Regions from separate parts of the Homo sapiens genome. Here region 1 is linked to region 2. Evidence: fine-mapped QTL for protein levels in blood plasma. A gene starts in region 2. The other region holds a variant in brackets. All regions are shown on one strand. Distances are from middle to middle. Region 1 holds the start of SNORA54 (small nucleolar RNA, H/ACA box 54). Region 2 holds the start of NAP1L4 (nucleosome assembly protein 1 like 4).

Region 1 (14,520 bases), 23 kb after region 2:
CCTGGAGGGAGGTGGGTTTGGGCAGAAGGACATTCAAGGCAGAGGCGAGTAGCACATGCAAAGAAAACTTAGGGAACAGTGCTGGCAGAGAGCTAGTGAGCCTTGGGCTCTCCTGGACTGTGAAGTCTATGGCACCACAGTGAGCAAGGGAGCTAGTGGATGCTCTTTTACTTTGAGGAACTGATCTCATCTCTGTTCGTGGCTTCTGGACACCACCATGGGACTTGGGGGTAGACCATGTGAACTTACATTAATGATGTCCTCAGTTGTTTAAGTCTGGTGCTTAAACAGCCACAGTCCTGGTGAGAGCCAGGACTCTCTAGGTGTTTATTCAGTAAATTTGTAACTACCCATCAGGTGATTAACCCAGAGTGTTAAATGCTCTTAAAATAAATTTTAATTATTTTCAAAACATGTTTAAGAAGTCACTGGTGTATGTATTTAGAAATTAGTAGATGTAAATCTAGGCAAAGCTAAGTAGATATGTTACTAATTTTTGACTCTTGGCTATTGTGTGTGGTGGGCATATTTTAAATATGTTTGGTCTTAACTCTTCATAGAAAAGCTCACAGATCAGGTGATGCAGAATCCTCGAGTTCTGGCAGCTTTACAGGAGCGACTTGACAATGTCCCTCACACCCCTTCCAGCTACATCGAAACGTAAGTGTGCTGTGAATAGGGTCTCATGCAATTTGGAGAAACAAAAGGAAAATAAAGGAAAAACCACTTTTCAGTTCCCCAGAACAGGATTAAATGTTTTTTTCGTTCCAAGACATTGTCTATGAGAGACAGGCACTGGGATATGAGAGGAGTGACCCTACCCGGTGCCTAGGCTGAGAGTTTGCCTGGTGGATGGAGTAGCGTGACCTGTCAGTTCTGATAGGAAGTGCACAGTGCCATCCTGTGGAGGGCTAGAGGACTTCACAGATCATCTGAGTTGGAGAGGACAGCTGGTGGCTCCTAAGTTAAACTAAGAGAACCACTCCTTCCTGACTTACCCACATGAGCCTGTGACACCAACACCTTAAAAAAAAAAAACTGGGCATAGTGCCGCATGCCTATGAGTTTTCACTACCCTCCAGCCTGGGTGACAGTGAGACTGTCTTTAAGAAAAAAAAAAAGATGGGGTCTCACTGTATTTCCTAGGCTGGTTTTGAACTCATGGCCTCAATTGGTTCTCCCGCCTCAGCCTCTCAAAATGCTGGGATAACGGGTGAGCTACCGTGCCTGGCTGACACCTTTGCTTTCTTAAGAGAGGCCTATGTGCTAGATGTATTGCACTATGAAAATGATAAGGGTGGTGATCCTAGAATCCTAGGATGGCTCTTGTCAGGACCTCTCTTACTTCTGGAAGGAATTTTTGGTTTTTGAGTTGGAGTCTCACTGTTGTTCAGGCTGGAGTGCAGTGGCATGTAATAGTTCATTGTAACCTTGAACTCCTGAGCTCAAGTAATCCTTCTACCTCAGCCTCCAGAGTAGTTGGAACTATAGGCATGCACCACCATGCATGGCAATTTTTTTTTTTTTTTTTAAAGGGATGAGCTGTTACTGGGCTTCCATCTATAATTGGGTCAGGGCTTGGTCTCCCAGGAGGCCCCACCTTCCAGCTGGTTTCCCCAGTCAGGACTGCCAGGGCTATTACGACAAGAAGGGGACATTTATTTTTTATTTTTATTTTTTGAGACAGACTCTTGCTCTGTCATCCAGGCTGGAGTGCAACTTCCGCCTCCCGGGTTCAAGTGATTCTCCTGCCTCAGCCTCCTGAGTAGCTGGAATTGCAGGTGCACGCCACCACTCCCAGCTAGTTTTTTGTAGTTTTATTTATTTCACTGTACGTTCTGGAGTAGATGTGCTGAGTGTTCAGGTTTGTTACATAGGTATACATGTGCCATGGTGATTTGCTGCACGTGTTTTTTTGTTTGTTTTGTTTTGTTTTGTTTTTGTATTTTTAGTAGAGACAGGGATTTGCCATGTTGGCCAGGCTGATCTCCAGCTCCTGACCTCAGGTGATCTGCCCACCTTGGCCTCCCAAAGTGCTGGGATTATAGGCATGAGCCACTGCGCCTGGCCTAGAAGGTGACATTCAGAGTTTGCTTTGCCCATTTAGAAGCTTCTCAGAGATTACTTAGTGGGCAAGGTGTTTTGATGTTATTTTTTTTGCAGACTAGATTGATGGGATGGGGTGATACTGAGTGGGAGTGGCAAGAATGAGAATGAGTAATGGTTTCTAGTTTTCTCGCTTTAGAAACTGGGTTGGTGGGGTGGCATTCTGTGAGAGGAACTGCTTGAGTGGGATCAGGTTTATGTGGGACTAGAAGTGGTTCCATATTAGCCATATTGCAGGAAAAGTGCCGGCAGAGGGCTGGGTGTAGTTGGTGTGAATGATTGAAGGACTGTTGGGGGCACACTAGGGTCCAGTTTGTTTAACATCCTTTGTCTAAATGACGAGTTAATGGGTGCAGCACACCAACATGGCACATGCATACGTATGTAACAAACCTGCACGTTGTGCATTTGTACCCTAAAACTTAAAGTATAATTAAAAAAAAAAATCCTTTGTCATTTTACTTCAGTTGGAAAGCTTCAAAAATTAAACTAATTTAAAATTGTATAATTAGCCAGGCATGGTAGCTCACACCTGTAATCCTAGCACTTTGGGAGGCCGAGGCAGGCAGATTGCTTGAGCTCAGGAGTTCGAGACCAGCCTGGGCAACATGGTCAAACCCCTACTCTACAGGATGCAAAAAAATTAGCTGGGCATGGTGATGTGCCCCTGTAGTCCAACTATTCAGGATGCTGAGGTGGGAGTATCATTTGAGCCCAGAAAGTTGAGGCTACAGTGAGCCGAGATCGCACCAGTGCACTGCAGCCTGGGCAACAGAGTGAGATCCTGTCACAATAAATGAATGAATGAATGACCAGTGCAGAAAAGGGGTAAAAATGGCAGTGGGAGTCTACCATTTTGTTAAATTCTTTCTGCTTTTCCCTTTTTTTCATCTACTACTAGCAGTAGTTCTAGAATGTTAAGCATTATTTGAGAGTCTTTGCTTAAACTAAGGACCTTTAGCTTGAGGTAGCTGTGGTTGTATTTCACCCAGGAGAGTGGTCCTTTGGGATGCAAGGCAGTTGTTCTAATACCTCCCAGACCAGTGATATGTGTGTGTGACTTGCCTACTGCTCTGTGCTGTCTGTTGTTGGAGGGTAAGTCAAGTGCTTAGACTTGAAGACTCTGATTGTGTGAATGAGTATTCAAGATGCAGGACCCAGGGCCCTGCCCCAGGTAGATTATTTGGGTCTATGATGAGGCCAGGAATCTGCTGTTCAGTCCACATGATTGTGACCAGGGGCTTCGTTTTGAACAAATAGTTTTGATGGGTTAAACAAGGATTTTTCTTCTGATTTATAAAAGTTATACATAACAACTATTTTTTAAAACATAGAACAGAATTGAAAGGCAAACTCATAGTTGACCTGACTCTCCAGGACAAAGTTGTGTTGCCTGTGGTCTGTGTTTCTCAGATTTTTTCCTCCAGTGTGTTAACAAGTGTGGATTCCCACGTGGCACTAAATATTCCTGGACAGTGTGATTATGAATAGGCCATATTTGAATGCTGTTGCACTTGCATTGTCCAGTTTTTCACTTGTACAGATCTATCGACGGACACTCCAGCATAAATACTTGATTAGGATAAATTTTTTTTTTTCCTTTTGGTAAGATAGGGTCTTGCTCTGTTTCCCAGGCTGGAGTGCAGTAGCGCAATCATAGCTCCCTGCTGCCTTGACCTCACAGACTCAAGTGATCCTCCCACCTCAGCCTCCTGAGTAGCTGGGACTACAGGCGCACACCATCATGCCTTGCTAATTTTTTAAAATTTTTTTGTAGAGAGAGGTCTTGCTGTATTGCTCAGGCTGGTCTTGGAGTCCTGCCCTCAAGCAATCCTACCTTGGCCTCCCAGAGTGGTGGGATTACAGGCATGAGCCACTGCGCCCAGCCTTAAGGATAAATTCTTAGAAATAGAATTACTGGGTCCAAAGAACATTTTCAATATTTCTGCCCTTCAGAAAGATGAGTCAGTTAGAGGGCTTCTTGGCCCTTAGCCTCGTAAAACCTGGGTGTTTTGTTTTGGTTTTTAATTGCCAATTTGGTAAGGAAAAGCTGAGTGTTCTTAAATGTTTGCATTCTTTTGGATATTTTATGAAATTGAATCTTTCTTCATGTTTGACAATTTGTGTTTTTTCTTTTGTGAATTATTTTTTCTGCTTCCTCCTGTATCCTTTTTTTCCTGTTGGGGTATTGTCCTTTTCTTAATTTTTAAGAGGTCTTGTTCATAGTAAGGATGTTGATTCCATGTTAACCTAAATTTATTTTAATAAAATTGAAAAGCATGCTGCTTTATTTTGCAGGCATGAGGATGTTGTATTTCTTACTCCCTTTTTTAGTTTACCTAAAGCAGTAAAAAGAAGAATTAATGCATTGAAACAACTTCAGGTGAGATGTGCTCACATAGAAGCCAAGTTCTATGAAGAGGTACATGACTTGGAAAGAAAGTATGCAGCGCTATACCAGCCTCTCTTTGACAAGGTAGGGAGCTCTGTTAATTTAATATACAGATAGTTTTCAGCTTACGAAGGTGTTAGGTTCCGATAAACCCATTATAAGTTGACAACATCTAGGGTAAGAACGCATCTAACCTGCCAAACATAGCTTAGTCTAGACTACCTTAAACAAGCTCAGAACGCTAACATTAGCCTGCAGTCAGGCAAAATCATCTTCCACAAAGCCTATTTTATAATAAAGTGCTGAGTATCTCGCGTAATGTATTGAACCCTACACAGAGAGAGGAACACAGTGTGGCTGTATTGGTGCCCAAAGTGTGATGGCTTCTGCACCATCAGGAAGTTGAAAATCTTTAGCTGAACCATTGGAAATCGGGGACTGTCTTTATTTTACATCTTTAGGTGAAACATCCAGGTTTACCCAGGGAATCATTTAATATTTTTCTTTGAACCCTAAAATTTAGAATCTTAAAATAAGTTATAAAAATATCCAGTTTTCAAAGTCTTTTAGTAGACATTATTTATAAATTTAACTCTTGAGTTCCTAAGTAAGCTAATAACATAATTCTAATAAGGTCTCATTTTTATGTAGAGAAGAGAATTTATCACCGGCGATGTTGAACCAACAGATGCGGAATCGGAATGGCACAGTGAAAATGAAGAGGAAGAGAAATTGGCTGTAAGTCTTTAGAAACATGTGACTCATGTTCTGTTTTAATACTGTTAAAAATAAGCATTTTTTAATGATTTTTAATGACTAGTAAACTTATGTGCTTCTAACAGTAGGTGCTGCTGCATCATTAGGTTGGGTTTAGATTCCTTTCTGATATGGATCTAGCATCTGACACAGTACTGTCAGTTAATAGGAGTAAGATGTAGTGCCACCTCAGTTATCTGTGGACAGGAGCATATTGAAATAAGGGATCAGACCAACAAAGATTAAAACATCAGAGAAAGCAAAGATGAAGAAGAGATGCCCCTGTGTTCTCAGTCACTGGAAGATTGGGGGAGTTGTGAGGGGAGTGCCTTCCTGCTCAGTGGCATGGACTAGCTTGCCCCCTGAGAGGTGCTCCGCCAGTGGATTGGTTGCAGATGGTGGTTGTGGTGTGGCCATCAGTCACCTGCTCACAGCCTTTTTCTAGTGACTGGTCCCATTCCAGTGCTGTGAAAACTCCCAGTGTACCATGGATTAACTTTGTCAGCCTGATTTTATGTTTGGGAGACAAGTAACTTTTATCCTATAACTAACTTTTTGCAGTTTTTTTTTTGGGGGGGGGGTGGTATATGATGATTTTGGTAGCCATATGTGTTTTTGATGCTTTAAAAATATATAGAACCTGGCCTAATTGAAGCCATGGCTGTGGATTAATACAGTTGTGAATCAGTTTCTAACAGCTCAAGGGAAATCTGCCTTTGCTGATTTAAAAGGCCTTTCATTTCAAGATCATTTCATCATAACAATCCCGTTTGGCAAGGCATTCAGAATTTCCCATAGTTGCATCTGGTGTTGCGTTTCACCTCCCTTGGTCTACCTTTTCCCTGGGGCCTGACTCCCCTTCCTTTTGCCATGTGGCCTTTCTGGTCACTTTCTGATGCTTGCGTGGTGTCTGAGCTGGCATTTATAGCCACTTCCTTACAAGCTGGATAAGTTGCTGAGCACTTTCTTGCTGCAGATACTGCTGCGGCAATTTTTTTTTTTTTTATTTCAACTTAGCACCCCACAAATTTTAACAAGAGGTCAGATTATTAGTCCAAGTGAACTTCTTTATCCTTGCACTGGACTTTTTTTGCCCAGTGCTAGATGTTCTGCATATTTGCATTGCATCTCCTTAAGGTTGATGTACAGTCTTTGCATCTGCATTTGTGATGATGATTGTCTCAGGATGGCACCTCACAGAGCTAGCACTGGATGGCCTTTCCCAGCGTCGGTGGCACTTTGTCATCTCTTTAGTTTCTTCGCCTTTGATGTGAAATGGTACGGAATTCCGTGTGGATGTAATGACTTGAATGCTTTTTCCTCAGAAGCATCTGAAAAGTGTCGCGTGGCCCAGTGAGTGGTTTGGAGGTGCAGACTTAGAAAGCAAGGTGTTTGATGGGAGATAGTAGAGGATTCGGCAACGATATTCTACGTGAAGCCGCTGCATTGTTTGTAAACTTTTATTTTCGTTACCTATGTTGCATCTTTTTTTTAGGGAGACATGAAAAGTAAAGTAGTCGTCACAGAAAAAGCAGCGGCAACGGCTGAAGAGCCAGATCCCAAAGGAATTCCAGAGTTCTGGTTTACCATCTTCAGAAATGTGGACATGCTGAGTGAATTAGTCCAGGTAAGCACACTTCTGTCTTGTAGAGAGATTATGTGCTAGTCTTCTAACATTACTTATCTATGGCATTTTTTAAGCACTACACTGGGCATTGAAAGATTGTTCATAGTGGGCGGAAGGGCACTTTCTCTGACCAGGACCTCAGATGAGCAGTCCTGATCTCACAGTGAATGGTTTATTCACAGTGGGGCTTCCATGCTGTCTTTTGCAGTTCTTGGTGGAAAGCTGGGCGCTTCAGCCTGATCCAAAACTTTCAAATCAGTTCCTTTTACCTCTTGTAAAGCTCTGTTGTCTTGCCTGTGGGAAAGCCTATGAATAGATTCCAGAGCCCATCTCTGTCTTCCTGTGGTGTGAGTGTGCAGGAAAGGGTGAGGGCAGGAGACCAGAGCAGAATGAATTTTGAAGGGATGAGCTGTGTGTTTGTTTGTGTGTGTGTGTGTACACACACATCTCAGTGAATTTTTGAACAAGTTGCTAATATTTTCTGATCATTTCTCTTGAAAAAGTGTCTATTTTTTTTAAAAAAAGAGGCCAGGCATGGTGGCTCATGTCTGTAGTCCCAGCACTTTGGGAGGTCAAGGTAGGCAGATCGTTTGAGACCAGCCTGGGCAGCATCGCGAAATCCCATCTCTACAAAAAATAGAAAAGTTAGCTGGGCGTTGTGGTGTGCGCCTGTGGTCCCAGGTACTTGGGAGGCTGAGGCAGGAGGATCACCTGAGCCGAGGAGGTTGAGGCTGTGGTGAGCTGTGATCACGGTGCTGCACTCCATCCTGGTGGGTGACGAGACCCTGTCTCCAAAAAAAAAAAAAAAAAAAAACAACACAACAACAAAACCCAACCACCATTTCTGATTTTGTCTTGCCTTGACATTTCACTTTCTGTAGTGAAATGGTGAACAAATTAAAAGGTAACAAATTTGGTTTTCCCTGAAATGAGTTATAATAGAAGTTTCTAGAACAGAGAAACAAATCTTGCCTTAAGTCTCACTGACTGACTTGCCGTCAGTTTTTATTGCTCCAGCGTCCCCAGAAACAGCACGTCTGCATTCAGACTTGCTCAGGACAGCTGCAGGCTCTGCTTGTGTGGGCAGAGTGCTTCTCCCATCACAGAGCATAGGCACTGTGCGTTGCAAACTGCTACATTGTAATTTGCACAGGATTTTACAGCTACGGTTTTTAATGGTTTTCACAAATGTATCACATTGCTGCCTCTGCTACCTCCCTTGTTTAATGCTTGTCCTGTGTCCTAAGCCAAAACTTGAGAAAAGATGGAAAGAATGATGTATTTCTTATTCTCCTTCCAGACCAGAAAGCATCTAAAATAGAACAGCCTTGGTTTTTCCTGATCTGAGCTTCCTTTTCATATGAAAAGGTGGAATTTAAGAAGACTAGACCATACTTTTAAAAGAATGCCATGCACCAGAATTTCATTGGAAAAATTAAGTAATGTCTACCAGAGCCGTAGTCTCACCCTGTGTATTACAATCACCTGAGCAGCTTTGAAAACTAAATAGCAAAAACTAAATGCCTCATCTGTCACCATGGCACTGAGAGTTTTGAGTTGGTTTTAGGAACTCTAATGTGCACCCTGAGAGTTGAAAATCTCCATGGCAGGGAGCAGGTGGAAAGACTAGCTCTTAGTTCGTTCTTCTCAGACTTCGGGGGGCATGGGGAGTGGCCATGGCAGTGCGGATTCTGGTTCTGTGGGGCTGTCTGGCTCATGGGCCCTGGGGTGATTCTTGCACTGCAGGGTTGGAGCATCTTCACGTGGGATTGGGGGTGCAGTGATAACAGGGTTTGGGAGCTAGAGTTAGGTGACTTGAGTGAGTTTTGGTGTCCCCTTCTGTGCGTGTGGCCACCTGGTTATGGCATTGGGGTCACTGGCCATGGATAGTGCTGCCTTGGGTTTTGAGAGCACAGTGAGGCATTTGGCCACATTTTAAATGGGGTGTCCCTTCTCATTCTCCCAGCACCTCTGTAGTAGTGTCAGTGCTTCAGCATTTCAGCCATGAAGTGTCTTTTGTTGCTTTTTGTTTTAACAGCTTTAAAAAGATATGCAGGGGTTGATAGAGTACTCATTTAATATGCAGAGAATGAGGAAATGTTATTTGTACTGTTTGTAACCTCATAGCAGGTAATGGTAGCATATTCTATTTTGATTTTTTTTTTTAACAATATTTTCTTTTTTTTTTTTTTTTAACGGAGTCTCGCTCTGTCGCCCAGGCTGGAGTGCAGTGGCGTGATCTTGGCTCACTGTAAGCTCCACCTCCTGGGTTCACGCCATTCTCCTGCCTCAGCCTCCCGAGTAGCTGGGACTACAGGCATCCGCCACCACGCCTGGCTAATTTTTTTATTTTTAGTAGAGACGGGGTTTCACTGTGTTAGCCAGGATGGTCTCGATCTGCTGACCTCATCATCCGCCTGCCTTGGCCTCCCAAAGTGCTGGGATTACAGGCGTGAGCCACCGTGCCCGGCCAACAGTTGTTTTTTAATGTCTGGTTTTGAAGTCTGCCATTTCTGAGAGAAGCCCTTTCATTTTTAAGGGACATGGTCTTGCTATGATGCCCAGCCTAGAGGTCAGTGGCTTTTCATAGGCACAGTCAGGACACTGCTGTCTCAGTCTCCTGGCCTCAAGGGGTCCTCTCGAGTAGCTGGGACTGTAGATATGCGCCACTATGCCCAGCTCATTTTGGTCAAATATTAAATTCCAAAGGCGGATTAACTCTGAGTCCCTTTGTTCTAAATTTGGGGATAGTTGAAATATATTTCTGCAAGGAGAGTGGAAAATTTGAGATGGTGGCTTTACGATCTGAGTGCGATGCCTCCAGTGTTGTGCCTTTGCTTCCTGAGTCTGAGCGTCTGCCAGTGTGGGGCATTACCTTAATATTTGCCCTGGACATTTAAAGTTTTGACCCACAGGGTACATGGCTGCTTGAGGAAATTAGAACATAATGGTTATTTTATGAAGTTTGGGAAAACATGAGTGGGCACTGCGTCTTTGAGTGGGATGAGTTTGAAGTCCCAGTGCCATCTCTGGAAAGCATGCTGGTGGAAGTGCTCATCTTGGTGATCTAGAGCCAGCGCATGCTTCTGTGGGTGGCACGCGCAGCATTGGAGACTGAACATCGCATGCAGGTGTGGCCCATTTCACAACTGCCTTTGGGTTACTTTTTGTCTAGATACTTGCAGGTATCTTTTTGTTGCTGTTTTTGTTTTGTTTTATGTCAGAAGAGTTGAAAATTAGGACTCAACGGAAAATCAGGCACAGAAAGGGGGGAAATACCTCACGTTCACACTCATGTGGGAGCTACAAAAACAGCTCACCGAAGCAGAGAATTGTTGATAAAGGCTAAGAGGGAGAGAGAGGGGAGGATAAATAGGGAGAGGTCTGTT[A/GAGAGGTCTGTTA]TCAGATACAGAGTGACTGCTAGATTGGAGGAGTAAGTTCTGGTGTGTTGTAGCACTGTAGGGTGAATGTGGCTAACGATAATTTAGTGCGTGTTTTCAGAAAGCTAGAGGACGGGTTTTGAATGTTCAAAAATAAATGTTTGAGGTGATGGTCCTGATTTATTACACATTGTGTACGTGCATCAAAATGTCACTGTGTCCCATAAATAGTACAATTATTACATACAACTAAAAAAGAGAAAAAATGATTTAAGAAAAACTTAATGCAACTTCAAGACATTTTGAGATTCAGTGCCCAGACTTTGGGGGTAAAGAAGTGACTGCCATGTTACAAATGAAGTGCCTGCTGCCAGTGCGTGTTTCTGAGGATTCAGGTCTTCCCACTCCTCTTCTGACTTTCCTCACTGGGACTTTCTAAGCTGACAGGTATTGGCAAAATGAGTTTAAAGAAATATCACTTGTAAAATGATACAGACACAGATAAGAATTGTACGCTCTTCCATGATGCCCACTCTTCCATGGTGCCCGCAAGTTGGATCTCAGACACGCTCTGTGTAAGTGTTCTTAAAGAAGTAACCGTGTGTGGCCGGGCGCGGTGGCTCACGCCTGTAATCCCAGCACTTTGGGAGGCCGAGGTGGGTGGATCACAAGGTCAGGAGATCGAGACCATCCTGGCTAACACGGTGAAACCCCGTCTCTACTAAAAATACAAAAAATTAGCCGGGCATGGTTGGCGGGTGCCTGTAGTCCCAGCTGCTCGGGAGGCTGAATCCGGGAGGCGGAGCTTGCAGTGACCAAGATCACACCATTGCACTCCAGTCTGGGCAACAGAGCCAGACTCCGTCTCAAAAAAAATAAAGAAGTGACTGTGTGTATTGTGAGTTTTGGATACAGTCATGAGCCACATAACACATTTTGGTCACAACAGACTGCATATAGGATGGCGGTCCTGTAAGATTATGATACCATATTCTTACTGTACCTTCTCTGTGTTTAGATACACAAATAAGTACCATCACCAGCTGCTTCCAGTATTCAGTACAGTCCCATGCTGTTCAGGTTTGCAGCGTAGGAGCAATAGTGGATAGTAGGCTGCACTATCGAGGTTTGTGTAAATATGCTCTGATGAACACACGCCGAATTGCCTAACAATGTGTTTCTCAGGAGGTGCCCCCATTGTTAAGCCATGCACAACTTTATTGCCACAGGTGGGGAAGCTGGCTGCCAAGGCCGTAGCCGATCTAGCCTTCTCTTCTGACTTCCAGGCTTCTGCTCTTTCTCCTCAGAGAGGCTGAGGACCAACAGTCTTGGTTGGTAGCATTTCTGATCTCTGTGTGCAGTGGCAGCTGGTGGCAGGAAAGCAGTGAAGGCCCTTGCCCCAGTATTGCAGGCAGGCGGGTGTCAGTGGCACTGCCCTTTGCTGGCAGTGGCAGCCACCGTTGCTCCACACTAGGGAAAGGGGACACCTTGGTGCTGCTTCTCTATGACAGGGAGTTGGTGAATAAGTCTGGGTTTCTTCCTGGTAGTTATTACTTTGACAAGGACAGAATTCCAATAGGGCTAGTTATGCAACATCTGGGAGCCTCTGCAACCATGACTCTTCGGGAGAGATGTGTTGTTTTTTTAAAAGCCTGTTGGAATTTTTTTTCTCTTTTTGATTAGGAATATGATGAACCAATCTTGAAACACCTGCAGGATATTAAAGTGAAATTTTCTGACCCTGGACAGCCTATGGTGAGTACTGACTTGACCTTCTGGTTGGCATCAGACAGGGTCAGTCCACAAAGATGGAAGAACTTGGAGCCAGGGGCAAGAAACCCACAAAACCCACACCCAGCCACTCATCTGCTGGGCAGCCCTGGGCGAGACTGCTCTCCAAGAGTTAGACTGAGTACCGCATTGTGTGTTTGCTCCCTGAGTTCGATGGGGATCCCATTGCCTTTCTGTGTCATGCTTGGCACTGTAGTCGTGAGTCTGTGCTGGATGATTTGACAGTGATGCAGACCATGTGATGCCCCAGACCCTGCAGCCAGGTGGGCACCAATGCAGGAGTCAGGCTGCAACTCCTGGGCTGTAGTGGTGCTGTCCACTGTGCCAGGCCTTGGTCTTGTAGTTTGTTTGTTTACTCTGTTGGGTGGAGATGATACCATTCTTTTCCCAAGTGTCTCTGAAGTTTGCATGCATCTAATGTATATGTTTAACGTTTAAAAAGATGGGAGCTATGTACACATAATGATCAGCACTTATTCAGAAATCTGAACCTACTAGGTTTTACCCTAAAAAAAAAAGCGCAAATAAGACTGAAAAATGTTTTCCTGCTCTTTGATTTGTCCTGAAACACGTCTTTACAATATGCTTGCCATGGCATATCATTGCATTAGTAATGTTAGTGGCATGGATCAGCCTACCAGTTGGTAAGATAAGCTTGACTAGGTCAGCCCTTACTTTTATCTGAGGAACCATATGCTCATCTTCAAATGGCCTTGCCAGACTGTCTCATCCCAGCCTGGTTCTCCCAGGGAGCACTGTTCGTAACCCGTTAGCCTGGCTGTAGCTAATGGGTTCCATTCCGGTGCAATAGCATTTCCAGCGACACATGACTGACTGACTGGTGGCTTTCAGTTTCAGGTCTTGGAGACAAATGCTGCATGACGGGCTGTGGGTTAGGGATCTTGGGTGTGGGTGATGGTGGTAGGGGCCTGGGGCCAGTCACCAGTATCTTCCTTCCTCCCCATCTCAGCACTGGGGCCTGGGCTAATGGATGAGGGCCACTAGGAGTGGGATTTCTTCACTGCAAGTGCTGCAAGTAATGCCTGGGGCAGCAGCAGGGGTGGGCAGTGGATGTACCTGTATCTGTCTCTTCTACTTTTTCCTGTCTGTTTTCCACTATGGAAGGTGACATTCAGGTGTCCCTCTCTAGGTGGGGCCCTGGGAGCTGGGAGTGATGCCTGCTCACCAGCTGGGGGCTGCCCTCCAGAGGGGATACCCCATCTTCCTTGCCCCATGTGGGTTATAGCAGGTCCTTCTTCCTGGGCTTGCATCACTTCTGTTTAGACTTTATCACAGGGCCCCCAGGAGCCGCCTGGGCACGTCTGCCTAGTTTGCCCTCGTTGGTGTGCATTCTCTTCCCCATGGTGTGAGCGTGCGGTGCTTTAAGTTTCTGTGCGTTTTTTCTTTGTACTTCTTTCTTACCTGTGATTCATCCAGACGCAATTAACTTTTTTTCCCTTTTGGGTCAGTTCCTTTTTTTTTCCTTTCTTTTTTCTCCTTTTCTTTTCTTCCTTTTTTTTCTTTTTTCTTTTTTTTTTTTTTTTTGAGACCGAGTCTCACTGTGTCACCAGGCTGGAGTGCAGTGATATGATCTCGGCTCACTGCAACCTCTGCCTCCTGGATTCAAGCGATTCTCCTGCCTCAGCCTCCCGAGTAGCTGGGACTACAGGCACGCACCACCACGCCCAGCTAATTTTTGTATTTTTAGTAGAGACGTGGTTTCACCATGTTGGCCAGGATGGTCTCAATCTCTTGACCTCGTGATCCACCCGCCTCAGCCTTCCAAAGTGCTGGGATTACAGGCATGAGCCACCACACCCGGCCTCTTTTTTTCTTATTGGACACCTGTTTGATGATTTCCTAGGTCAATTTTCTTTCTTTCTTAGCCTGTCATCTTATTTTTCTCCATCTCATTGTGACTCATAGACTAGAGCTCTGGTTATGGTAGACTGTGGACCAGTAATTTTTTTTTTTCTTTTTACTTCCCTATTATAAAAGTCATATGTAGAAAATACAGGCAAGTGTAAAGAACACTATACAAATCTGTCTTCTAAAAGTAAATCTCAGCAGCTTAGTGAATTTCCCCATACTCTTTTTCCTTTGTAAAATTATTATGAAGCGTCTAATGCATTTTAAGTTATAAAGATAAATGAAACTTCAAAATGAGTCTTGACTGGTGTTTTTGCAGCATGCCTCATTCCCTTCCCTTGAGCGCTTGCCTACCTGGATACACAGTGCACACGTGTGCCACACGGCTCCTGCCACACCACATGGTGTGTGCACAGTGTCACCCTGCTGCCACATCACACAGGCTTGGCTGGGGGAATAGTTGTTACTGCAGCCATTGGCTATAAAACAGTTTAACATTCCCCTACATGCCCCACCTCCCCCATTGTAAATTGTTGCATTATGATCAGCATACTTGAACCCAAATTTGTGTTAAATTAAATGTTTGATGGTTTCCTTAGTTTAGGTTCCTT
Region 2 (16,496 bases):
CTTCAGCTGGCCGAGGAATTTCTCCCCCATGCTGATGGCTATCGGCTAATCTCTGGTGTGTGGGCACATTGGGAGGTATTTGAGTAGGAAAAAGACAGGCTCAGACTGGCAGAGCCTGCTGAGCCCTAGACAAAGGCCGCTCAGTCTGCCCTCGGGTTCTGATGAATAAACACACTGCAGGTTTTCCTAGAGCCGTTCCATACTGGGCAGCAGCACAGCGAGTGGCTCAGCAGGCAGGCCCCTGGCGAGCTGCCCAGAACTGCCGCTGGAGACAGCAAGTCCAGGATCTGCATGGCTAATGAGTGAGTTGTGGGGGTGGTCTCAACACAGCAGGGGCCTTCTTGTCCCCAGTGCCCAGTGTTGTCCTTGCCACCCTGCCTCCACACCTGGTTCACCTGGACTAAGAATCACCACCCAGACGCGAAGGTGCTTACCCATCCTTGGCTGAGGAGGGCGTAAGCAGAAACCACAGCCTGCTTCATGCCTGCGGAAGCTGGTGCCAGGCCATATCCATCGGGACAAAAGACAGTCATTGGTGCTGTGGACATCCAGGGGGGGACACTCCATCCAGTGCATGTGGATGGTGGCAGCAGCCTCAGCATGGGGAGTGTGGCAGTGTTGGGTTGTGGGTGCGCCAATTCTTTGTCCTTGCCCTCCGCATGCGCATGCTGTTTACTGCAGTAGTGTGTGACACAGCAAAAGGCTGGAACCAGCCTGTCTGTGCATCAGCAGGGTGCTTGGCACAGCTTGAGAGCACCCACCCAATTATGCAGGGAGCACTAAGGTTATAAATCAATGAGGACAGTCTCTGGGTATTGATAGGCCTGACTTTGAACCTTGTCAGTATTTTATATATAAAAAAATTTAAACCAGCAAGAAAGAAAAGTCCCCCAAACAAAGTAAAACAAACATGTTCCAGTTATCTGTTGCCACTTAACAAATCACCCCAAAACTTCATGGCTGAAAACAACAATGATCATGTTAATAACTCATGGCTCTGGATTGACTGGGCTCAGTTGATTGGTTTTCAGTTGCAGGCAGATGGGGTCATCTCTAAGTTTGTGCCTGGGTCCCACACTAGGGCTGCTTGGGCACCTTTTACCTCTGTGAGACCTGTGTGTGATCTCTCCAGCTTGGCGGCTTCACGGTGGCTGATTTCTGTTGCAACAGCCTATAGCTCCAAAGGTGCGAGTCCTGAGAGAGAGAGAGACAGGAGCTATATGGCCTTTTAGGATCTAACCTCGGAGGTCATGTCCTGACTTCCACCGTCCTCCCTAGCGGAGGCCGTCACAAGGCCCACCCACGTTCGTGCGGAGGGGGAGGCATAGACACTACCCTGTGGTGGGCATTACTGGGTTCCAGAAGGGATGGGAAATACTACTGCAGCTATTTCAGAAAGTACCATCTGGCACAAAAACATAAATCAAATTGGCAACCTCAAGAAAAGAACTTCAACTTTCTGAGAATTGGCCATTTTTTGCTACACATCTTTAATGGGGTATCTTCTAAGGTCAAAGAAAGTACAGAAAAGTCAATTCAATAGTTTTGTTGTTAGTAATAACATTGGCATTATAATTTTCAAACCCTGTATGCCAACACAAATAAGATCACTGACACCCAGGCTGGAGTGCAGGGAAGCAATCTTAGCTCACTGCAACCTCCGCCTCCCGGGTTCAAGCTATTCTTCTGCCTCAGCCTCCCAAGTAGTTGGGATCACAGACACGCGCCACCATGCCCAGCTAATTTTTGTATTTTTAGTAGAGATGGGGTTTCACCATATTGGCCAGGCTGGTCTTGAACTCCTGACCTCAAGTGATCCGCCCGCCTCAGCCTCCCAAAGTGCTGGGATTACAGGTGTGAGCCACTGCGCCCAGCCTAGCAATCAAGTTTTTAATGTAAGACGATAAAATATCAAAGAAGTCAAGGAAAATCACTTTACTATTAAATACGAATTAGAAAAAACAATATGAAGTAACTTGTGATTTTAAAAAGTAGATTGTTTCCTGACTGTGTAGATGGGAAGGGTGGAGAAGCAAGGCAGCCCTGGTGGCACTGAGCAGCCCCAGCCCCGATCTGGGGCTCTAAACCCCATCCCACCCCCTGGAGAAATGGCCAGTTCCAGGTCTGCAGCAGCAGGAGTAGCTGAGCCCAGGCACTCTTGTGCCCCAAAAGGGGAGCTTTCGAACACCAAGAAGTCAGGTCAGGAGGACACTGGACAAGGTAGTGACACATAGCAGCTGGGTGGTATGTGTCAGGGGCATTCTGCTGGGTTTGGAAAAGCCACCCCTGAAAGGTTGCATGCCATGTGATTCCACGTAGATAACATTCTCAAGTAGGAATAGAGAACAGATGGTGGTAGCTGGGGTTAAAGATGGTGGGGGGGCGGGGGCAGGTGGAGGGGAGTGACTGCACAGGGACAGTAGGAGGTGGGGTTGGTGGGGAGGGCACTTCTGTGTTCTTGTTTCCATGGTGATCACACAAATCTGCATATGTGATAGCACAACGTAGAGTCACACACATTGTACCAATGTCAGTCTCCTGTGTTGATCTTGAACTCTGGCCAGGCAAGGTGTGACCATCAGGAAACAAACTGTGCAGTTTTCTGGAAACCTATAATTACTTTAAGGCTTCAGGAGCTCCTACTGGCTAAGTTTGGGACAATTTGAGCATTGAAAAGAATGATTCCAGCCAGGGCAACATAGCGAGACCCTGTCTCTACTAAAAGTCAAAAAAATTAGCCGGTGTAGTGGCGCACTTGTGATCCCAGCTACTCAGGAGGCTGAGGTTGGAGGATTGCCTGAGCATGGGAGGTGGAGGCTGCAAGTGAGCTGCGATCATACCACTGCACTCCAGTCTGGATGGCAGAGCAAGACTCTGTCTCAAAACAAAAAACAAAAACAAACAAACAAAAAAAAAACTCCAGGCATCTGTATTTATTCTCAAAACTAGAGAAAGCTAAAACATATTGTCGTTACTGGAGGTGGCCTGTGTCAGCTCCTTTCTGTAGAGTTACTCATTAGTGACAGAAGCAAGTATTTTACCTTGCATGGGAAGTATATTTCAGGGCCACCAAATGGCCCTAGCTGAAAGGGGAAAGTTGTTCTTTCCCCCAAAGATGCCAGCTAAGGGAAGAAGCACCAGGATCAGACATCTCCATTCTGCAACCCCGAATGAAGTCATTGATTCAGGCAGGGGCTGACCGCGGATGCTGAGACCCCTGGATGAAAGCTGGTAGGTGCTGGATAATTTGATGCCAAAGTGTCACCTTGTGAGTAACTTGTAGGTTTCCAGGAGGGGATACGTGTTACTTTCTGATGTTGGGCCCTGGCTGTCAGCCCCCCAACAAAAAGAAGGATTTCCTCTAAAAGTATAAGTCAGTATTGAATGCAGCTTTTAGGCTAGGGCTCCTTAACCTTGAATGTGCGTATAAACTGCCCAGGGTTGCTTGTTAACACAAATTTCAGTTCAGGTCTAGGAGGAGCCCAAGATTCTGCATTCCTGCAGTCTCCCAGCTGTGGCCTGTGCTGCCGGGCTACAGCCCCCTCAGGAGCAAGGCTGTCCAGCTCACTTCCTGTCTGCAGGAAATACTGGGAACAGAGGGAGAATGCAGGTGAGGCCATGAAGCAGCCACCACATTTGTGCAGAAGGTGGGGCATTCTGCCAGATGCCCGGCTGGCATCTTCAATACGTCTGCGTCAAAGGGAGCAGAATAGGGCAGAAGAGAAGGACTGGGAGAGACTCGAGAAACAAAACCACCAGGTTTGAGGGATAATCTTTGAAGGATTTGAACAAACCTGCTGTAAAGACATTTCAAAGGGGGTCGGGCACAGTGGCTCATGCCTGTAATCCCAGCACTTTGGGAGGCTGAGGCAGGCGGATCACCTGAGGTGGAGAGTTCAAGACTAGCTTGACCAACATGGAGAAACCCTGTCTCTACTAAAAATACAAAAAAATTAGTTGGGCATGGTGGCACATGCCAGCTACTCCGGAGGCTGAGGCGGGAGAATCGCTCGAACCCGGGAGGTGGAGGTTGCGGTGAGCCGAGATCTCGCCATTGCACTCCAGCCTGGGCAACAAGAGCGAAACTCCGTCTCAAAAAAAAAAAAAAAAAAAAAATTTCAAGAAATTTGAATGACCAGGTATTGGATGACAGTCAAGATTTTTGCTAATTTTGTTAGTGTGATAATGGCGGCTGCATGGAGAGGTGTCTTTAATGAGATACAAAGTAGCCTGAAACCTGTAACTCAGTATCCTTTAGCCAAGGAAACTGATGAAGTGCAGCCGGCACTGCAGCAGCAGCAATCCCTTCCACAGTGTATCCTCTTTACTGGCCTGTGCTGGAAACCATGTATCAAATATCCTGACAACTGGGCCATGAGGAAATACCCTTGTCTTTAGCTGCCACCACTGGGGTGAGCGGAGGTTGGCCCAAAGCCGCGGTGCCATCCAAGGAGGCAAGAAGGAGTGGCGTGTGCCCCATTTCCAGTGGTGGCTGCACAAAAACGTATCCAGATTGCCAGGGGCACGCCTGGTCCCCACAGCTGGTGAAGGCCTGGCTCCACCTGGACTGCAGTAGGGCCAGGCTGTGGCCCCTGTTTCACGCCCCCCAATTCAGAGTGATTCTGGGCCGCTTTTCTGCCTGGAGTTTCCCCGTTCTGAGGGCCCACTGCCCGGTGCGCCTTCTCTCTGCCCTTCCCTGACTTCCTCCAGTCTCCCCAGGCTGGGTCCGAGGGCCTGCAGTGACAATAGGCTGGCTGGGCCCAGGCCATTGGCTTGGCCCCCAAGAGGACCCCAGCACCTCCCTACCCTGCAATCTCTTGCTGTCAGGCTGCAGCAGATCCTTCTGGAACAACGTGGGGTGGACACTTTTCTTGTATAATATTAGTTTGCCTGTGGAAAGTGTTTCTTTTCTGTACATGAAAGCTCTGTTCAGCTGTAAGAGCCAGATTTACATCTTCCTGTTTTTCCCCAAAGAGCAATCTTTGGTGTCTTTACTATAAAAACGTCATGTATTCATTATTTAAAAATAAATAATACGGAAAACTTCCAATATAAAGTAGAAACTGAAAGACCCCGTGCCCTACCTCTCAAATCCCTACAACATTTGGGGTACAGTCTTCCAGATGCCTTCTTTCTGAGGCCGGGAAGCTTGCAAAGGCACTCCCTGTCTGCGCACCCCTCTTGTGTGGAGTACGCCATGGGTGTTTTCTGTTCTCCATATACCAGGAGAAACCAGCCACCTCTCTTGGATGTCTCCAGGGCCCCACTTTGTTAATGCCCCACAGGCTGAGCCCCCAGCCTACTGAGGGGGCTTTGGGCATTTCTGAGGCCTCGGCTCCAGCTCTTGGCGGCTGCGAGGTCTTTTGAGGAGTAGCGCCCCCACCACAGGTGAAGGGCATGGCCGCCCCCTCCAGGGCCAGAGCCACTTAGCTGGGGGCGTTAGAGGGGTTTCTCTGTTTTCTCCTCTGTTGAATGGGGCAGTGATTGCTGCCTCTACTTCCAGGCCAAGGTGTAGCCATTGTCAGTAGCGCCCAGGTAAGGGCACAGCTCGCCAAGTGCCAGGCACTTTTCCGGGTGCTGGCAATGTGAAGAAGAAACACGTGGTGTCTGTCCGGGACTGTCTCCCGGAGCCTCAGTGAGGACAAGGCAGCCAAGAGCAGAACTACAGGCAAGGTAGCCTCTGGAGGGGACTCTTGATCTCCAGGTTGGAGGAGGCTGAGGCAGCAGAGGGGTTGTAGACAGGTGGGCTCATGCCTGAGGCCTGGCAGAGGCAGCGCTGGGAAAACAGGAATGAAACTCACCAAGCGCCAGCTACCCTGGGAGTCCTGATCCCAGTGGCCCTCAGCTCTGGCTGCATGTCAGTGTCATCTGGGGACTTCTTTGTTTTGACACAGGGTCTTGGTCTTGCTCTGTCACCCAGGCTGGAGTGCAGTGGCATGATCACAGCTCACTGCAGCCTCTAAATCCCAGGCACAAGTGATCCTCCCACCTCAGCCTCTCAAGCAGCTGGGACTATAGATGCACCACCATGCCTAGCTAATTTTTAGATATTTGGTAGAGATGGGATCTCATCATGTTGCCCAGGCTGGTCTCGAACTCTTGGGCTCAAGCAATCTGCCCACTCGACCTCATTACCTAATTGCATCTGTGAAGACTCTATTTCCAAATGAGAATCTTCCAAGGAGAGAAACCACCAACCACCAAGAGAAAAACACCACCACCACAATCATTCCAGTTCCAGCAGATCTCCCAGGGAGCAGGTCCAGCTGCCCCCAGCCCCAAGGCCCAGCTCCCTCAGAGGATCCACCCACCCGGATGCCACCCCCACCAACCCCAACATCCAGGAGCAGGGGGATCCCATTACTGCAAATGGTCTTGAGACTTTATTAGATGGGAGGAAGGACCCTCCAAACTTCAAATGCCCAGGTTCTTGTGTCATTTCTATCATTGTTTATGCTTCCGCAAAGCATAAAGCATGACCTTTGTAGAAAAGTCTGAAAGTCTAAATAAGTAAAATAGGAATTGAGAGCACACACACCCTCTCCTAAAACACAGATGGCCAGACAGGACTGAGCACGCTGTGTGGGTCAGGCCTCAGCCATGCACCGGTCACCTCTGAGGGGTTTTTATGTTTTTTGTTTTAATTAGTTTTTTTTTTATTTTTTATTTTTTGAGATGGAGTCTCGCTCTGTCGCCCAGGCTGGAGTGCAGTGGTGCGATCTCGGCTCACACTGTAAGCTCCGCCTCCCGGGTTCACGCCATTCTCCTGCCTCAGCCTCCCGAGTAGCTGGGACTAGGGCGTCCGCCACAATGCACGGCTAATTTTTTTGTATTTTTAGTAGAGACGGGGTTTCACCGTGTTAGCCAGGATGGTCTCGATCTCCTGACATCGTGATCGGCCCACCTCGGCCTCCCAAAGTGCTGGGATTACAGGCTTGAGCCACCGCGCCCGGCCTTTTTTTTGTCTTTTTGAGACAATGTCCCCCTCTGGTTACCCAGGCTGGAGTGCAGTGGCCCAATCTCTGCTCACTGCAGCCTTGACCTCACGGGCTCAGGTAATTCTCCCACCTCAGCCTCCCAAGTAGCTGGTATTACAGGCCTGAGCCACCACGCCTGGGTAATTTTTTGTTGTTGTTGTTTTTGGAGCAGGGGAAGGGTGCTCTATGTTGCCCAGGCTGGACTTGTTGCCTCTGCCTCCCAGAGTGCTGGGTTTACAGGCCTGAGCCACGGCGCTCCGCATTAATTTCTTTTTAGAGATGAGGTTTCACTATGTTGCCCAGGCTGGACTTGAATTTCTGGGCTCAAGGAATCCTCCTGCCTCAGCCTCCCAGCTTACCTCTGAGGTTTATAACCGACGCTATGTTCTTAATCCCTCAACCAGGAGCCTTTAAATGGTTTCAAATTTTCCCCATTACAGGAATAACTTGCTAATAATAATAATAATTAGCAATTGTTTCAAAAGTAACGTCATCCCAAAAGAGAACGTTTCTGAAAAAAATGCACATTAGACTTGAAGACCCCCAATGGCACGGTTGAACATGGAAATGAACCAGCCTCAAAAGTCCCAGCGTAGGGGTTATTTTCCAATCAAATTGGATGCCTTTCTACAAAATGTGATGTGCACAGGCTGGGGCTGGTACCTTCACCCCAGCCCAGAGGGCACCATGAGAGGGAGAACAGGGCGGGCGAAACAGGCCAGCTCCTCCCCAGCCCTCTGCCCTGCTCTGCTTCAGGGGGCTGATCTGAGGGCCCAGTGCGCACTGCTTTTCCTCCTTGTCCGACAGGGTCTCCCGCAGGCCAGAACTAGGCTGCTGGGACACTGCGGGGCTCAGGGCGTGGGGGAAGAGATGCAGGCAGTGGCTAGTCCCGTCCTGTCCGCGGAGGTGACCCAGCCCCGACCTCTTCGCAGAGGAAGTGTTCTCCAACCTGGGACCTGGGGGATGAGCGGGGGTTAGGCTTACGTCCCAACCACTAACGGGGCTGGTTGAAAACGGCTCCCAGGCGGAGGGGCCCTCCGCGATGTTCTCAAGGAGTAGCGCGAGGGGACGACATGGGAGGTGGGGTTCTCACATCAGCGGGCGCACGGAGTGCTGGAGGCACCGACCCGCCGCGGACGGGATTGAACTAGGGAACTGGGAGGGCGCAGGAGATAAAGACGGCTGGGGCCGGGGCCCACGGAGAGGGGTGGTGCCCAGTGTCCCGCGAGGATGTGGTGCCACCCGGGGAAGGTCCCGGGAGCGGGGACCCGGGACCCCCCGGAACCACACACGCGGTCTCCACCTTGCCCCGCCCCATTTAAAGAGGCGGAGGAACGCAGGGCGCGCGCCGCGCGGAGGAATATTTGCATATGGCGCGGCGTTTCTTCGGAGGCTTGTGATTGGTTGCTGACTGCGGCGCGAAGCGCAGTTGACTTGCGCCGCGCTCGGCGAATCGCAGCCTGTCTTGCTCGCGGAGAGAGGAGCTAGGAGCCTCGGCCAATGGGAGCCGGCGTTGTTGGAGGCCACGGCGGCGCAGCCCCAAAGCGAGCGAAGCTAGGGTCGCCGCCACTGCCGCAGGAGGCGTGAGGTGCGGAGACACGGGTGCTGGGCCGGTAACGGCGCGCTGGGGAGGGCGGCCGGGCCCGGACGGGCGGGTGGGGCCGCGGGTCCGGCGCGGGCGCGGCGGCGGCCATCTCTGGAAGCCTCGGGGCGGTGGGGCAGGGGCGGGGCCGCGTTCTGGTCGGGGCAGGCAGCGGCGGCCGCGGCGGGGCCTGGGGCTTGGGGCCTGGAGCCCGGGCCTGGGGCGCTGGCGGGAGGCCCCTCCCAACTCCCGGCGCGCCTCGCCCGGCTGCCCGCCTCACTGAAGGTCAAGGCGCTTTGTTCTGCGCCGCGGGCGGCCTCCTGGGCGGCGGCCCCTTGGAGGAGGCGAAGACGGCGAGAGGCGGCGGCCGCTCAAATCTCCCGCTAGCCCAGCCCGCCCCGCGTGCGGGGGCTGTGGCGGTTACACGGCCGGGCGCGCCGGAGCGTTCAGGCTTCCCGTTTTTAAGGTGGAGACGTCCAGGACTTCTTTATTAGATGTTTAGGAATTTGAGTTTTTCCGTAGGGCGGTTGTCATCGTGAGCCTCTGTGGGGTCAGGCTGGGCTAACTGGGGTTTTGATGTCAGTTTGGTGTGGCCGAGGGCATGTCTGACGGGGAAGAAAGTCCTTGGCGTTGCTTCTTAGCTGTTGGGAGCTGTGCGGTGGGAGCGAGCTGGGCGGCGTGCGCTCCCCGAGGACTGGCCTGAGTGGCCTTAGACTAGTTACTCACGGGACTTGGTTTCCCAGCCAAGGTGGGCAGCAAGTCTGTTTACTATTTAAAACCGTCTTTCACAAGGGAAAAGCAAAATCTCCAAAAAAAAAAATTGTACATGTTATGGATGGGAAAGTGCCATGCTTTTCTTTCAGTTCAGAGATGGTGGAAGAGGTCACATTTGTATTTTTTGACCTGACCAGAGTCTTTGTTGTTTTCAATTTTCCCCTTCTGAATGCTTTCCGTTCACCCCAGCGAAGGATGGCCTGGTCATGATAAGACTTTCCACCGTCCACAGTTCTCTAAGTCTGATTGCGGGGCAGGAGGCAGACATGTTTAGGGTCCAGTAAAGGGGACTCCAGCCTTGGGACCTTTAGACCCTAACGTGTGTGTCACATCACCTGCCTGGGTGACTGTGCGCTCCTCTGGCAGGAAGGTCCGCCATTTCATTATGTTCTCGGAGGAATCGTCGGGGCACATTCGTCTGTGCTTTGGTTCGCATCCCCCAGTCTGCATTACTTTTTCCTGTAGTAACCCGTGCCTTATCCTCCTGCATTAGGTTTACGGGGTGAAAATAGACTTTTAAAAATTCTCTTACCTTAGAAATATACAAATATGTAGATTAGGTTGTTGGACCTTAAAGGTAAGTCTTTCTAAGTTACTACCTTCCTGTAATAGTAACTATACCTCTAAATGACTAATACCTGCACTGCGCACCAGGGACTCTTTCAGCCTGTTTGCGTGTGTTAACTCATTTCATAATCTAATAACCTGAGATAGATGCTATTGTTTTTCCATTTAACTACTCTGGAAGCTGAGGCCCTGGGAGGTTAGGTATAATGACTTGTCCGAGGTGACAAAGCTTAAAGACCCAGGCAGTTTTAACTGTACCCAGGGTTACTGCTTCTGTAGAGGGAATGAAAGAAGTTTTAATGAGAAATTGTTTTCATCATTGTGCTAAGCTTAACTGAACTCTAGCTTACGAGGTTTTGAGCTGGTTGATCATTTCCATCTCAAAATTCTCTTATTCCACAGAATGCCAAATGCCTCCTATAGTAGAATTTTGAGATTCAGACTGGGATGAGCAATTGCTAATGGAATAAATAATATGCAAATGTAAAATGAAGTTCAGAGAAAGCAACGTGGTGATAGAATGGGAAAGTAATCCAAAGATAAAATGAGTGACTACAGAGAGAGAGAAAATTAGTTATTTAGTAGTAGTTCACAAGTTTACTTAGAGATATTTTTACTAGAATTTCAGGGCCTTATGATGTGATTTTTATGAACCATTTTAACACGTTACTGCCGTCTTAAATAGCTGTTATTACATATCCAATTGCAGTCTTTTTTTTTTCCTGGTTGAGCAGTGTTAGCTTCAGAATGTCTGCAGTTATTTGTGCCTATATGTCATATAGGCACATATAACACTTTTGTGAATTTTGTTGTGTAAGCTTTAAATCCGGTACTGTTTTTCAAAATGAATATGGAGTAGTCATTGGAGAAATTGGTTGAATTCTTTGCAGTAGCAAATAAATTTTAATCATTTTTAAGTTTGATAACTTTGGTAAACTGAATTCTGAAAAGTTTACACATGTTTTAGGATGTCCTCAAAATGTACAGGGCATTGTGTTTTGCAAATTAGCCATTTAGCCATCAGATTCTTCTGTAGAATTTTGATCTTTTTGCCCATATGAGAGGTAGTTCTTATTTGTATGGAGGTTAAGTACCTGCGGATGGGATGTGTTCATCACCACTTTACAGTATGAATTTGAATTTGAAACTGAAATGAAAACTTCCTAACCTGTCAGAGTTTTTAGTAGCCTCTTGTTATTGACCGCATGTTAATTCCCTTTGTTAGCTATTCGCAGCTAAGTGTGGGGACTGAAATCTTTATTTTGTTTTCCTTCTTTTGAGCAGTTGATAGTCTCTAGCATCAGGAGGAGGTGACCTCAAATATGTATGTATATATAGTAGTGCTTTTCTTCCTTCCCTTTAGTTGTCTGCAGTTTAAAAATTATTGTGATAAGTTTATGTTGTACTTCCAAAAATGTTGCCAAAGAGCCTATATTTTTCAGTTTGTTTTGGAAGAAAAATACTTTGTGGGCAAGAAGGTGATTTAAATTCCTGACGGCCTAAGAGGCGTCAGCTGTGTGAAATAGGCGAGTGCTGTTACTGCTTGAAACCATGATGGTTTATATTTGAATAAGACAGCAGAGATGAGCTTGTTGGGAGTTTGGCCTGAGATTGCTAGCTAAGGAATGCTTGCTTTTTTGCTTAAAGGGAAAAGTGTTTTAGGCTTCCAGAGTAGAAATCTGATATTACTTCGTTTGATTCTTCGACCACTATGGTGATAGGAAGTAGCTGATCTCTGCAGGAAACTGCTGTTACCTGGCCTCAGCTGAATTTTTGTGGGACCTCCTGAGGTAAGCAAATTTATGCCTCCCGAAACTATAGTTGTAAGGTTTGTCTTTGAGCATATAGTAATGGAAAACCCTTATCAGTAGGTAGATAGTAAATAATTTTGTATTTGGCTGCTAATGAAATTTTTAAGAAATAGTTTGTGGTGATATAAATTAGTTTTCATCTGGCAGTCATTGGTTTTCCACCCTGCCCTCTTAAGAGAGAACAGGGTTGCTTTACTTTGTTTGCCAGAGCTTTACATTTTGCATTTAGTAACAGAGGCATTGTGTTTTTATAGTATGAAAACAACGAAAGATCACTTTGTGATCTTTACTTTTTGATTTTGACCACTTCCTGTGTAACCTTAAGTTTCTTACAAGTATCCCCTGTTAACTGTTAAAAACGAAATGTATGTTCATTTCATGTCCTTGGGACTTTTAAAAATGCGCTGTGCATTATCTGGAAAAGCCTGTTCAAAAACAAGATGAGATAATTTCTGTTTAATTTGTGGTAGAAAGAATGACTGTGCACTTTTATGTGCAAAGGTTTTAAGTATAATAATTAAAATAGTACTTGTTTACTCAGTTACCGAAAAGTAGCTTTCAGTGATTTGCATCTGTTTACTTATTCATGAGCATCTTCTATGTACTGGGCACAGTTCTAGGTACTGGGGCCTCCCGCAGAATAAAACAGAAGTCTTTGTCCTTGTTTCTGCTATGGGAGACAGACGAACAAGTTCAATGGTGGCAGGTGCTTTTGAAAAACAGTGCAGAGGAGTAGGGACTTTGGTGGTTGCAATATGAAATAGGTAGAGAGGGAAGTGCCTTATTGACAAGATGACAAGATCTTTTAATATGTACTGGATTAAGAAGTTAGCCTCATTGAGTCGTATGCTAATGAACTGCCCAGAAAAGAAGGGTGGAGGAGATGGGAGTGCAGCAGTAAAGACTGCTGCGCCCCAAGTAAAATGTAGTGTTTTGGTTAAGGAAAGGAAATCATTTTTTGCTTTCTTCTTGAAACCCCAGGGCTTGGCACCGCAGAAGTCTCTGAAGAGACAGTCTGCTGCTGTTTGGAGGCAGGTATTTCAGTAGATCTTGTAACCAAACATGAATGACTAAGGCAGTGTTTCTCCTCTGTGTCTTCAGAAACTGCTTGAGATGTGTGCATGCAGTCCCGGGCACCATGCGTGCTGGGTACTGGTAACACAGAGACAAGTTGTCATTTGGTAGCAGTGAGTTAAGCAAAGATTTCTTGGCAACCAGTCTCATCCCGAGTCTGTTGCTGGGCCTTGGGACTTCTGTATTGAGCAAGTAGACAGGGTCCCTGCCCTCGTGGAACTTGTTCTTTAGTGGGCAAACATGTATTATTCATTGCTTTTTTTTTTTTTTTTTTTTTGAGGTGGAGTCTCGCTCTGATGCCCAGGCTGGAGTGCAGTGGCGCGATCTCGGCTCACTGCAGCCTCTGCCTCCCAGGTTCAAGCAATTCTCCTGTCTCAGCCTCCCAAGTAGCTGGGATTACAGGTGCTCACCACCACGCCTGGGTAATTTTTGTATCTTTTTAGTAGAGACGGGTTTCACCATATTGGTCAGGCTGGTCTCGAACTCCTGACCTCAGGTGGTCTGCCCACCTGGGCCTCTCAAAGTGCTGGGATTACAGGCGTGAGCCACCGTGCCCAGCCTATTCATTGCTTTTAAACATTATCATGGGCCTGGCATGGTGGCTCACGCCTGTAATCACAGCACTTTGGGGGAAGCTGAGGTGGGCAGATCACCTGAGGGTCAGGAGTTTGAGACCCTCTCCCGCCTTGGGTGACAGAGCGAGACTCCACCTCAAAAAACAACAACAACAACAAAAAACCCAGAACATTATCATGGAAAGTTTAACAACATGATTAACTTCTGATCCTGGAGAGTGGTAATGATAGACTGGATCAGGAGTCTACTGGCCTGGGCAATAGAAATGAAATCTGGACTGTCTCAGGGCTTCGTATAATCACCAGCTTTTGTGGGTGGGGATGTTGGGGTGTCCTACAGGGGTATCTTGATTCCTTCTGAGAACAGATCATTTCTTTGTCCTTTCTGATGTCCTAATCTAAAACATCCAGTACTCCTGGAGGATTTGAACTTGTGCCCAATGGCTGGTCAGACTCTCTTGGATTGAGAATGTTGGATTGCCATTCCTCAGACTGAATGTGGGCCAAGCAATTGTGCTTTAGAAATTTATCTTAGAGTGCGGTGGCTCATACCTGTAATCCCAGCACTTTGGGAGGTTGAGGCAGGTGGATCACCTGAGGTTGGGAGTTCGAGACCAAGTCTGGCCAACATGGTGAAACCCTGTCTCTACTAAAAATACAAAAAAAAAAAAAAATTAGCTGGGCATGGTGGTGGGCACCTGTAACTCCAGCTACTTGGGAGGCTGAGGCAGGAGAAACTGGGAGGTGGAGGTTGCAGTGAGCCGAGATCGCGCCACTGCACGCCAGCCTGGGCAACAAGTGCGAAACTCTATCTCAAAAAAAAAAAAAAAAATTTACTACCATCCCTAATTTTGTAGGATATATAGGATTTGTAAGGAAATTATAAGGAGTCTTGTGAAAACATTAATTACATTTGAATTAATTTTAATCCTTCAGTTATCTCCCATAAAGACATTGAGGACCTTTGAGTTTATTAAGACAGAGTAAATATATAAAAGTTTTGGGGAGTACGACTACACTCTCTAGCTTTGTCTCTCAAACGTGGCCCAATTTTTTTTTCCTTTCTTTTTCTTTTTTTTTTTTTTGAGACAGGGTCTGGCTCTGTCGCCCAGACTGGAGTCTAGTGGGGCAATCTTGGCTCACTACAACCTCCGCCCCCCAGGTTCAAGCAGTTCTCCTGCCTCAGCCTCCTGAGTAGCTGGGACCTCAGGCGTGTGCCACCATGCCCAGCTGATTTTTGTATTTTTAATGGAGATGGAATTTCACCACGTTGGCCAGGCTGACCTCGAACTCCCGACCTCATGTGATCCGCCCGCCTTGGTCTCCCAAAGTGCTGGGATTACAGGCGTGAGCCACCGTGCCTGGCCATGGCCCAATTTTATAGTTACTCTAGCTATGGAGTAGATGTTTTCAGTTCAAAATTAGGAATTTAAGGTTATATTTTGTTACAAAAATCTTTAAAAATTTCATAAGAAAACAGTTGTTTGGGGTACAAAGAAATTAATCCATAAATAGGATTGTTACAGTGACTAATATAAATAAAAGAACATTTGTGTAATCATGGGAATTATTTTATTTTATTTTTCCTCGACCCAATTAACTGGGTGAAAATTTGCTTGCCAGTTCAGATTTAGAATTGTAGACACAGTTAAAGTTTTTGACCTTGGGAGGGAACCTGAACTTTAGAAAACTTACAACATTCTTTTGCCTGGTATCCCTTTCATAATTTAACTTGATTGTCTTTTATTTATTTTTAGTTATTATTTATTAACACAAAATTATATTTATGATGTATAATGCGATGTTTTGAAGTACTATACATTGTGGAATGGCTAAGTCAAGTTAATTCACATTAGGTGGTATACTGATTCTGACAAGAACACTTAACATCTACTCTCAGCAATTTTTCAATTATGTGATACATTGTTGTTAACTATAGTCACCAGGTTGTATAGATCCCTTGATTGCCTTTTAAAAGTGAGAGAACCTTCTGGATGAGTCTTCGGGCTGTGGTTTTATAAGACTAGTATTAAACTGAACATAACATTTAAAACAAACAGATATTTATTTTCCTCAAACCTGTATATTTGATAGTTCCTTATAACTTTCTGTTTTAAGGGTGATAGGGATTGATAAACAAAAATAATTTGTGGTGCTGAAACTTGACTGAACTCTAGCTTGTTTATAATACCACCTCTCTACATTGTCTTTCCTTATTCAGGTTGAGCACTCCTGATCCCAAAATCAAAAATCCAAATGCTCCAAATTCTGAAACTCCGTTAGTGTTGACATTAATGTTACAAGTGGAAAATTTCACACCTGACTTCACGTGATGGATCACAGTTAAAACTTTGTTTCATGCACAAAATTATTTAAAATATTGTATAAAATTACCTTCAGTCTATGTGAATAAGATGTGTGGGAAACGTGAATGAATTTCATGTTTAGATTTGGGTCCCATCCCCAAGATACCTGATCATGTTTATACAAATATTCTAAAATCTGAAACACTTCTGGTCCCAAGCATTTCAGATAAGAGATACTCAACCTGTATAAAGGGTGCAGTGTTTAAAGTAACTTGATTTGTTGGTTTCATATCAAGGAATAGATGTAGTCTATATGCATGGCAGTTACAAAAGTGAAAAGAGACCTGGCCTGCTGTTATGTACTAGGAAATTTGTCTCCATTAACAGTTTCTCAGGTAGCCACTGTCTTCTAGTTTGTGGATGATGAAACTGAGGTCCAGAGGAAGGTTATGCAGAAGAGCATGAGTGGGAATGAGTATGGGGAAGTAGACAGGGCCTGAATTGGTAGGAATGTGTATTCTGCAGAAGGTGACGGGGGACCATTGAAGTGTGTTTGTTAGTTTTTTGTTTGTTTGTTTTTTGAGACAGAGTTTCGCTCTTGTTGCCCAGGCTGGAGTGCAATGGCGAGATCTCGGCTCACTGCAACTTCCGCCTCCTGGGTTCAAGAGATTCTCCTGCCTCAGCCTCCTGAGTAGCTGAGATTACAGGCATGCGCCACCATGCCCGGCTAATTTTGTATTCTTAGTAGAGACGGGTTTCTCCGTGTTGGTCAGGCTGGTCTCGAACTCCTGACCTCAGATGATCCGCTCGCCTCGGCCTCCCAAAGTACT

What was found. A credible set is the group of variants that fine-mapping cannot tell apart. PIP is the chance, under the fine-mapping model, that this variant and not a neighbour inherited with it causes the effect. Protein levels are from antibody-based Olink assays in UK Biobank. Linkage for the fine-mapping came from a reference panel and not from the study's own genotypes, which makes the PIPs less certain.
Region 1: its variant is the best candidate, but not a certain one, in a credible set for the plasma level of the NAP1L4 protein (UK Biobank, PIP 0.62).

What each region holds. Positions count from the first base shown.
Region 1 is chr11:2,962,164-2,976,683 of GRCh38, reverse strand. It overlaps NAP1L4 (nucleosome assembly protein 1 like 4), which reads left to right. Exons shown (of 16, transcript NM_005969.4): 4 at 561-660; 5 at 4,441-4,582; 6 at 5,150-5,236; 7 at 6,750-6,881; 8 at 11,933-12,004. It overlaps SNORA54 (small nucleolar RNA, H/ACA box 54), which reads left to right and starts at 12,791; the gene lies at 12,791-12,913. RefSeq lists a silencer at 10,158-10,358 and an enhancer at 11,066-11,565. The variant A/GAGAGGTCTGTTA (reference allele first, on the strand shown) is at 10,271.
Region 2 is chr11:2,984,323-3,000,818 of GRCh38, reverse strand. It overlaps NAP1L4 (nucleosome assembly protein 1 like 4), which reads left to right and starts at 8,490. Exons shown (of 16, transcript NM_005969.4): 1 at 8,490-8,565. RefSeq lists enhancers at 8,226-8,520, 9,065-9,921.